Linked DNA regions of Homo sapiens: region 2 is linked to region 1. A link means that fine-mapping ties the variant in region 1 to the expression of a gene that starts in the linked region. Tissue or cell type: sun-exposed skin. Region 1 holds a variant in brackets; the other region holds the start of a gene. All regions are shown on one strand. Distances are between the middles of the regions.

Region 1 (5,231 bases):
TAGGTAGATTGAAAGGTCACACATGTTTGAGATTAAACTACTGATAAAAGCACCCATACTTACATGAATTTCAGCAAAATTTTTGGAATTCAAAGACATAGAAAATATATGTTTTTAATCCAAACTGAGGAAACAGGTGTCCTAAAAATAAATCTGGCATCTTTCATCCTTTTCTGCAACTGTAAATTTCTAAGACAATGGGAAAACAGCAAGACAGTTTTGAGGAATAAAGTTATGACCCAGAATTACATATGCAGTGAAGTGAAAATAATGATAATAGGCATTGTCAGAGAAATTAAAGAGACCTGAAAATTGTTCCAAACATGCTCTTTTCTTGACAGTATCACGTGGCAAGCACTATGCTAAACAGTTTACATGCATTATTTCATTTCATCCTCATATCATCCCTATAATGTGATGTTTAAAAAGGAAGAACCAAAGCTTGAATTAAGCAGTTCCCCCAAGACCACAAACACAAGATATAGTAAGAACTTCAACCCATGTCTCATTGACACCAACGTCCTTGCTCTTATTCACTCATTTATATAACTCCCTTAAGTAGTTATTAGGATATCTCTGCATCAGTATGTTAGACAAATAATACGGCAAGCTTCATAACAATCCAAGGGCTTCCTAATTAGCCCCATAGCCTTCTAAGTACATATCCCCCCTTCCCATCACCTTGCTTTATTTTGCTTCTTTTGAACATCAGTGGACATAATTGGCCATGGCATGTATCACCATTAGTTCATGTACATCCATCTGATTTATACCATTTTTTCCAATAGATAAAAATCTCGATCCCATTCCTTTCCCTCCTACAAGAGCATCACTGGCTCTTATTTATTTGCTCTTTTCTTTTAGTCTACCTTCCAAATCATTGCATTCTTGGCCTCTGTAAATTCTGGATCTAATGATCTTCTTTGTCTTTTTTGAAACTTTTTTGTTTTGTTTTACTTTAAGCACATGGTTCCTAGTTGCCTGGAAAATCTTTTTCTATCCCATTATTTTCAACATTTTTGCATCATTTTAAGTATGTCTTCATTATCCAAAATATTACTGAATATTATATTTAGATCCAGCCAGATTGACTTCTGATCTTTGAATTTATAGATCATATTTCCTTTAGTTATACTAAAACTGATTTCTATTGGCATATTTTGTATTATCTATGAAACACTCCGTGTTTTTCCCCCCTTTTTTTTGTTTTTCTAGGCTCCATTGGATATAGATAGAATATTTCATTTTTTAGTTTAAATGTAATAAAAGCCATGTTTATTCTTCTCTTTTTGAGGCCAAGACTAATGTTAATTTTTTTCCAATTAGTGTCTGAGGTTTTCAATATCCATATGTTCCCTTGAATACAATGGGAAGCTCAATATGCTCTTACTTCATCTGTTCCACAACCATCCTTCTCAGGCCCATATGGGTTTTATCTGAAATTGTTCTGCGAGATTTTTGTGGATATACAGGTTTCCCTTTTAATCTTTCCTCATTTATATAAAAATACATTATATTCATTTATTTATTCTAGAGACACAGTTTGCTCTGTTGCCCAGACTGAAGCACAGTGGCATGATCATAGCTCATTATAGCCTCAAATTCTTGGGCTCAAGCAACCCTCCTGGCTCAGCCTCCCAAAGAGCTAGGAATCCAAGCACATGCCACCATAGTCAGCTAATCTTTTTATTTTTTGTAGAGACAGGGTCTCACTATGTTTCCCAGGCTAGTCTTGAACTCCTGGGCTCAAGCAATGCCCCTGCCTCAGCCTCCCAAAGTGCCGGGATTACAGGTGTGAGGCACTGCACCTGGCCATTTTACTGAATTTTAATATAACCTAACTTGATATATTTTATCTCTCCCCCTCAATTCATTTCTCATCTTCTTGTTCTATATCCTCTAAGAATTCTTTCAGAGATGGTCTCTGTATAGTAAATATTCTGAGACACATAACCAAACCTTCACATTTATATGATAATTCAGCTGCATATAAAATTCAACATTCTACATATTGCTCATGTTCTCACACCCAGTACCTAAAACTGTGTCATGACCCAAATTAGGTACCAATAAATATTTAAGTGAGTGAATAAATGAATAATGAGTGAATGGATGCAATTATACTATTAAGAAGAGTGTAACTTAAAACCTGTGAAGAGAACCTATAATATACAATGGTTCTGCTGGTTTCAAAAATAGCAATACTTGAAACTAGAATATGCCATATTGTTTTCTATACAAATGCTGTAATTTCTCCCTTCTGTCTTGGTGACTCTTTCCCAAACATCTATGTAAAGGCTGGGCCCCTTCCTTCATATTAACTCACTTAAGCCTGAGAACAGCCCAAAGAGGAAGATGAGATCATCTCCTCTTCCGTTTTTAGAAATAAGAAAACTCAGAAGTTCCCTAACTTACCCAAAGCAATAATTGAAACATTGGTCCTCTGACAACAGGCACCAAACCCTCACTCTCTGATGTTCCTTAACATCTTCCAGTGGAAGAGAGGACTTTATGAACAGGGACTTTTCATCCTATTGCCTGGATAGACACTGTATTAGTCTGTTTTCACACTGCTGATAAAGACATACCTGAGACTGGGCAATTTACCAAAGAAAGAGGTTAA[T/C]AGACTTACAGTTCCACGTCGTTGGAAAGGCCTCACAATCATGGTGGAAGACAAAGAGGAGCAAGTCACATTTTACATGGATGGCTGCAGGCAAAGAGAGAGCTTGTGCAGGGAAACTCCTGTTTTTAAAACCATCAGATCTCATGAGACTCATTCACTATCACAAGAACAGCACAGAAAAGATCTGCCCCATAATCCAATCACTTCCCACTGGGCTCTTCCCATGACATGTGGGATTTACGGAAGTTACAATTTAAGATGAGATTTGGTTGGGGACACATCCAAATATATCAGACAGGGAAAATAATGATGAAGCAATCTGGTAAAAAAATAAAGAAATATGTAAAATCGGTCAAAACAGGAAACCTTTCTCTGTAATGTTTCTTGTTGCTTTGTAATCTTTGAAATTTATTAGGAAAAAGAGTATGTAATGAGCAGAAATGGAAGTGTGCTAAAACACATATCTAATAACCTCTTTATCTCAATTTATCAAAAGACTACCTCATTTCTTTTCTCAAAATCTCAGCTTCACAAGATGTTTTCTTAAGTTCATAAAAGAAATGAATCTCTTCCTATCTCATTGTCCTCCTGCCACTCTCAAGTAGGCCATCGTGTCTATTGTTCCCTTCTTTGTGTCCATGTGTACTCAGTGTTTAGCTCCCACTTGTAAGTGAGAACATGTAGTATTTGGTTTTTTGTTCCTGTTACTTCACTTAGGATAATGGCTTCCAGCTCTATCCATATTGTTGCAAAGGGCATGATCTCAATCTTTTTGATGGCTGTGTAGTATTCCATGGTGTATATGTTTTCTTTATCCAATCCACCAATGATGGGAATTTAACTTGATTCCACGTCTTTGATATTATGAATAGTGCTGCAATGAATATAAGCGTGCATGTGTTTTTATAGTAGAACAATTTATATTCCGTTGGGTGTATATCCAATAATGAGATTGCTTGGTCAAATGGTAGTTCTGTTTTAAATTCCTTGAGAAATCACCAAACTGCTTTCCATAGTGGGTAAACTAATTTACATTCCGACCAGCAGTGTATAAGCATCCCCTTTTCTCTGCAAACTCGTCAGCATCTGTTCTTTCTTGACTTTTTAATAATAGCCAGTCTGACTGGTATCTCAATTGTGGTTTTGATTTGCATTTCTCTAATAATTAGTGATGCTGAACATTTTTTCATAAGCCTGTAGGCTGCATGTGTGTCTTCCTTTGAGAAGTGTGTATTCATATCCTTTGCCCATGTTTTAATGGGATTGTTTGTTTTTGCTTGTTAATTTGTTTAAGTTCCTTATAGATTCTGGATATTAGACCTTTGTCAGATGCATAGTTTACAAATATTTTCCTCCATTCTATAGGTTATCTGTTTACTCTGTTAATTTATTTTGCTGCGCAGAAGCTCTTTAATTTAATTCGGTCTCATTTGTTAATTTTTGTTTTTGTTGAAATGCTTTTAGAGTTTCCATCATGAAATATTTGCCAGGGCCTGTGTCCATCCAGAATGATCTCTTTTAAGTTTTCTTCTAAAGTTGAAATGACCATACTGACTATATCAACTTACAGATTCAATGCTATTTCTATCAAAGTACCAACAAAATTTTTCACAGAATTAGAAAAAAAAACTATTCTAAAAATCACATAGAACCAAAAAAGAGCCCAAATACCCAAAGCAATCCTAAGTGAAAAGAACAAAGCCAGAAACATTACACCACCTGGATTTAAACTATAGTTCTAGGCTACAGTAATGAAAACAACATAGTGCTGGAACAAAAATAGACACATAGACCAATGGAACAGCTTAGAGAACCCCAGAAATAAAGCTGTAGTACATCTACAACCATCTGATCTTCGACAATAACAAAATGGGGAAGGAATCCCTATTCAACAAATGGTGCTGGAATAACTGCATAGCCATATGGAGATGATCAAAACTGGACCCCTTCCTTTCACCACATACAAAAAAACCAACTCAAGATGGACTAAAGACTTAAATGTAAAACCTAAAACAACTCTAGGAGAAAACTTATAATACCTAATACCATCCTGAATATTTTTATAAGAAGAAATTTCATTAGAACTTTGAGCAGAGCTCTTTGTTGTAAAATTGTCTTCCTACATTTGTTACATATTTTAAGAAAAGATTCCATGTTCAAATTATTAACTCTATCTTTAATCACAGATTGTAGACAAAATCTTCTATAGATCTATCTCAGAGAAACAGAGACCTGCTCTCCAATTTTCAAAAAATTACTAGATAAGCCCGATGTCTAAATAAACATGTGTGTCTTGAAACATGGCCCAAAGTTCAAGATAACCTCGTCTGTATACAATTGTAGGAGTGCATATTCTTCATCATAAATGCCACAGCACATGGTCCTGCAAAGAACTTGTCTCTGGGGGTACATGGGAAGAATTTTTTAAGAAATGAAATATTGAAGGAGGGGAAGGGAAAAAAGCAAAGTAGTCTGGTTTAGAAATTTGAACCCAAAATCAATTCTGAGCTTTTAGAAAAAACCAAGACCTTCATTATCACACATTAAGTAGGAAATTCGTATAGACCATTGGCCTTAATGTTAATAATGGTGGCTAAATCCACCTAAA
Region 2 (5,231 bases), 68 kb after region 1:
CAGTAACTGATAAATGGAAGCCAGCCAGATAAGATCGTTTTTTATTGTATTCCCAATTTACAGACTGAGAAACTGGGGTACTGAAAACTTAGGTAATTTAACTTCACAATAGCTGGTAAAACCCTTAAAGGCGATAAGGAATACATGGTTATCGGAAAATTCTGTAGTATTACCTGGGGGTTAGAGTGAAAATGGTCTATTACATTCCAGTCAATACTGATGTGCTGGAAGTATACTGGAGGTATAGATAGTTAAACCTGACTCAGGGAAGTGTTTGCCAAAGAAGGAATGCCATCAACCAGGCAGAAGAAGGAGCAGAGAATGATTTGGACAGAAGAACCATTTGCAAGAGGGCTGAAGGCAAGAGTACAGCTGGGAAGAGAATTGCAAGTAGCTCCTAGAGTAGGAGAAAAATGATGAAAGACAATGAATTAAAGAGATAAATAGAGGCTCAATGCCAAAACAAACAAACAAAACTGTATAAGTCACTCTAAAGAATTTGAACCTTATTCTCAAGACACTAGGAACCCAAGAAAAGAACTGGTCAGTTGAGTCACAGGCTCAGATTTGACCTTCAGAGATATCACTTAACTGCCCTGAGGAGAAAGCAGTGGAATGCCTGATAGGTGGCAAGAGCTGCTGGTGGTCTGGATTTGCATAATTTCTACAGAGAGAAGATACATTTAGGAGCTAGCTTTAACATGACTTGCTAATTGATTGACTCTGGTGGTGGTGGTGGTGGTGGTGAGAATGAAGTAATGTTAAGGTGACTTTCAGGTTTCTGGGGCATTCATCTGGATGGAGGGAAGTATCCACTCTTTAAGACAGTGAATTCAGGAGGAAACAAGTCAGTTTCAAGGGTGGTGAAATTTAATTCTAGACATGTTACATTTGAACATCCAATTTTTAATGACCTGTGGGTAATTGCACATATGGATTTCGAGTTTAGGAAAAAGACCTGGGCTGAAATATGGATGTTGTATATGTCAGCATGTAAATGTAAATGGAATTCATGGAAGAAGATGAAATTATACAAGGAGAATAAAGAATGAGAAAAGGAAATGAGCCAAAACTCCCCAAAATGGTAGCACATTTATATCCCTGTCATATGTCTCATGTCTCAAGAGCAAGCCTCCATACTGATGTTACCTTGCTTATGCATAATGGCATGTGTACAATGGAATCTTTCTTCTTTTTAAAAACTTCAATGAATTATACCTAATTTTCCTTGTATGAAATAGATGGGGGGCCGGGTGTGGTGGCTCACGCCTGTAATCCCAACACTTTGGGAGGCCAAAGCGGGCGGATAGCCTGAGGTCAGGAGTTAGAAACCAGCTTGGCCAACATGGTGAAACCCTGTCTCCACTAAAAATACAAAAAAATTAGCCGGGTGTGGTGGTGGGCACCTGTAATCCCAGCTACTTGGGAGGCTGAAGCAGGATAATTGCTTGAACCCAGGGGGTAGAGGTTGCAGCGAGCCGACATCGCATCACTGCACCCCACTCCAGCCTGGGTGACAGACTGGAGTGTCTCCATCTCAAAAATAAAAAAATAAAAAAAATAAATAAAAATAGATGGGGGATACTGAGCTGGAAAATCCTTACTATGACTGTAGTGTGTTTTGTCTACTCCCAAGCAGACAAAATCATAAATTCAAAACCAAGGTGCCATCATTATAGATATTTTCTAATTATAATTATACATCATCCAAAAAGGTAGTAGCGTTGTTGTTAATGGTAGCTGGAAATAAGAAAATGGGATACCATATCTAAAATAGGGTGTGTTAACTTCAAAGTGAGTCTTTTCCTTCCCCCGTAAGTGGGAGTGATTTGCTACAGTGAAAAATCAATGGGCCTTAGAGTCAGGGTTAAAGTCTCAACTCCACAAGCTATCTCCACTCCTCAATCATGAGCAGTTTACGCAACTCCAAGGACAGACAAGCTTGGGCAGACAGCATGCAATAAACAATGTATAGAAGTGAAAACTTACTTTAAGCTTCCAGGGTTTGTTTTTTGGTTTGTTCATGTTTTCTGTCTTGCTTTTATTTTTATTTTTTTTGCAACAAACACATTAGTTACGTTCTCTAGGTCTATTTCCTTACCCAGAGGAGGAAGGCCCCTTAGCACATGATCTCTGCGGTCTCCATTAGTTTCAACATCTTGTGGCGCTGATCACCTGTAAGTTAAGGAACAAACTTCACTGGGAAGTCCTGTAGCCTGAATCCAGCCCCAAACATCCACTCCCCCAGCTGAGGAGGCCGGGAGGTACTTTTACCCTGGTAGCATTCTCAATCAACATGTGTCATTACTCAAAGCGCAAGTGGACCAAGGTGCATATACTAATTTTTTCCTCCAAGGTCTTAGTTTTCATTTTACTTTGAAATGTCACTGTGACTACTTTTATTATTACTATTACCAGGAATCTATGATTGCCATCGAGGTCTATTAGAAGGTCATCTCCCATCCCCCACCCCGCCCAGCTTTATCCAGTGCACGAAGGCTGGCTATTTGTAATTCAATATACACTTTCCAAAACCACGAGTTTTACGTTTTATTATTGTTTTTACTTTTGAAGCCGATGTATGGGGGAACACCCACCAGCATTAACGTTGAAAGAGCTGTTTTCATTGAAACCACTCTTTCATCTGTGGATGGTAGGATAATTTATCAGTGTCTTTAATTTGGAATTGAAAAGTTTCCTGAAAACACTGCTAATTAAACTTTACTTCCCTGAAGTTCTCCTAAATACCTCCAACTCCGAGAACTAGCCCAGTATTTGCTCACTTCCTTTTGCCTTTCAACTCCATTTGATATATGTTTCCCACGACGTAGTGGAGACTTCTGGCTGGAGAGGCTGGAAAATATAACTCTGAATTTCCTACAATCTCAGCTCCACTTTCTCCCGCGCGTAGGCCCCCGGCTGGAGCGGTGTTATTGTCACGTGGCCACGGGGACGCCCGCAGCCGAGTCGGCCAATGGGCGCGCGTCGGCCTCTACCCGCCCGCCTTGCTACTCCGCCGCGCGGGGACTTGGCGCAGTGCCGCGGGGTGGAGGCGAAAAAGTTTCTTTTGCAGACAAGAAGGGGCTTCGGCGAGCCGACGCTGCTCAAGCTGCAACTCTGTTGCAGTTGGCAGTTCTTTTCGGTTTCCCTCCTGCTGTTTGGGGGCATGAAAGGGCTTCGCCGCCGGGAGTAAAAGAAGGAATTGACCGGGCAGCGCGAGGGAGGAGCGCGCACGCGACCGCGAGGGCGGGCGTGCACCCTCGGCTGGAAGTTTGTGCCGGGCCCCGAGCGCGCGCCGGCTGGGAGCTTCGGGTAGAGACCTAGGCCGCTGGACCGCGATGAGCGCGCCGAGCCTCCGTGCGCGCGCCGCGGGGTTGGGGCTGCTGCTGTGCGCGGTGCTGGGGCGCGCTGGCCGGTCAGACAGCGGCGGTCGCGGGGAACTCGGGCAGCCCTCTGGGGTAGCCGCCGAGCGCCCATGCCCCACTACCTGCCGCTGCCTCGGGGACCTGCTGGACTGCAGTCGTAAGCGGCTAGCGCGTCTTCCCGAGCCACTCCCGTCCTGGGTCGCTCGGCTGTAAGTATTCTTCCCGCGGGGGGAGGGGGCCCGGGCCGCTGGAGATTCGAGAAAACAGGAGCCGGCGGGGAATGGGGTTCGGCGTGCAGTCCCCTTTTTGCCGTATAGCTCCTTCTGGCCCAGGCCGCGATCGGCGCTCCGTGGGCGTGGAAAAAGAACTGTCCGGGCCTCAGTTTCCCTCCCACGTGCTTTGCGGGCGGCGCAGGTGGGCTCTTGGCGCGTCCTAACTGGCTGCAGGTAGACCAGGGTTGGGGGCCAGTAACGACGCCAGAGATTGGGGATGAAGTCCTGCGCCCTAAGCTAGCCAAGGGGTTCAAATGCTTGCTCCTGCCAGGCCCAGGGGAGATAAGCGGCAACCTGCACACATCAGGAGTTTGCAGTTCTCGCTGAGTTATGAGTCTGGTTCAGTTTTAGTTTCTAGCTGCGTCAGACTCCTTTTCCTGTTCCCACCCAGTAACTGAAGTCAGGCTTTTCATTTGGGAAGCCCCCTCAACAGAATTCGGTCATTCTCCAAGTTATGGTGGACGTACTTCTGTTGTTCTCCCTCTGCTTGCTTTTTCACATTAGCAGACCGTAAGTTCCCACTCCTCAACCAGATTGTAAAGACTGGTCGGTAGCTATGGAAAGGGCGGAACTCGATTATCCAGAATCAAGGGCGTGATTTCTGTAGCTCCTCAGAACGCCCAGACGGTTTAGGGGAGAGCGCAGGGAGCTCTTATGCAAGTTTTTGGATTTTTAGCTGCGAAGTCTGAAAACCTGAAATCACTGCCAACTGCGTGAAGAACAAGGAAGAAAATGTAATTTAGTTGGAAATGCTGATCTTTTCCAAATGTCATCTCTTTTCTTCCTCAGTCCCAGTTTTAAAATTGGAGTGCTGTAAAAAGTAAACAATCAAAATTTGTATTTTTTAAAGTAGTTGTTCTGTTTAAAATAAAAGTGCACTTCATACGTAATCTTATATTTTGACTTAGCAGAATTGCAATGAAAATTTTAAGTTTTTAAAACAATTCTAGTGAACTATTCCAATGCCCTAATGTGGTAGGAGGTTTGGTCAGGTGTTTAAGAATTTATATTTTAAAATTATTGTGCTAATCTAAATAACTTTTGTGAATGTAGAATTGTTGGCCATCAGAAAGTATATTCCTTGTGTTTTTAATAAGCCTTAGTTTAATAAAGTAGAATTAGTATTGGATTGATATTTAATTTCTTGGGACGTTTTATTTAGTAGTTTTTATTGCAATTGGAAGAGGAGATAAGGTCTTTAACCGAAAGCAGGGAGACTTTCAATTAGTTGTGGCTAATTCTGTTAAATTGCCTCTTGTGGAGGTCATGCTGCCTTATTCATGAGTGAATGGCTCTATTGACAACATATGGAACTGAACATGTAAATGACTGGAGGTGAACACTTAGGAATAATAGAGGGATGAGAAAGAGAAAATGAATACAGTGCTTCCTGGAGTGTATTTAGATATGCTTAGATTATTCACGGCATCTAACTTGTATTCGATAGTTTTTCAATGTCAAGTTGTCTATTGTGATCATGCTAGTGTGCAGTACTTTTTTTCTTTTTTCCTGGATTTAGATGTTTAGAAAAAAAATCTGTGTTGCCCTTGATCAGAAGTTGAGTTGAACCAAAAGGGGTTCGATACCTATTTAA

The links. PIP is the estimated chance that this variant, and not a neighbour inherited with it, causes the effect.
Region 2: LRIG3-DT starts here. The variant in region 1 is fine-mapped to the expression of LRIG3-DT in sun-exposed skin (GTEx, PIP 0.97).

What each region holds. Positions count from the first base shown.
Region 1 is chr12:58,985,973-58,991,203 of GRCh38, reverse strand. The region is part of intron 2 of LRIG3-DT (LRIG3 divergent transcript); the gene reads right to left. Among named protein-coding and RNA genes, the nearest start is that of LRIG3-DT, 68 kb to the right of the region's middle. The variant T/C (reference allele first, on the strand shown) is at 2,624.
Region 2 is chr12:58,918,343-58,923,573 of GRCh38, reverse strand. It overlaps LRIG3-DT (LRIG3 divergent transcript), which reads right to left and starts at 2,870. Exons shown (of 6, transcript NR_183518.1): 1 at 2,784-2,870; 2 at 2,102-2,175. It overlaps LRIG3 (leucine rich repeats and immunoglobulin like domains 3), which reads left to right and starts at 3,070. Exons shown (of 19, transcript NM_153377.5): 1 at 3,070-3,574. The coding sequence starts at 3,339. RefSeq lists silencers at 2,186-2,295, 2,914-3,023, 3,444-3,523 and an enhancer at 3,904-4,173.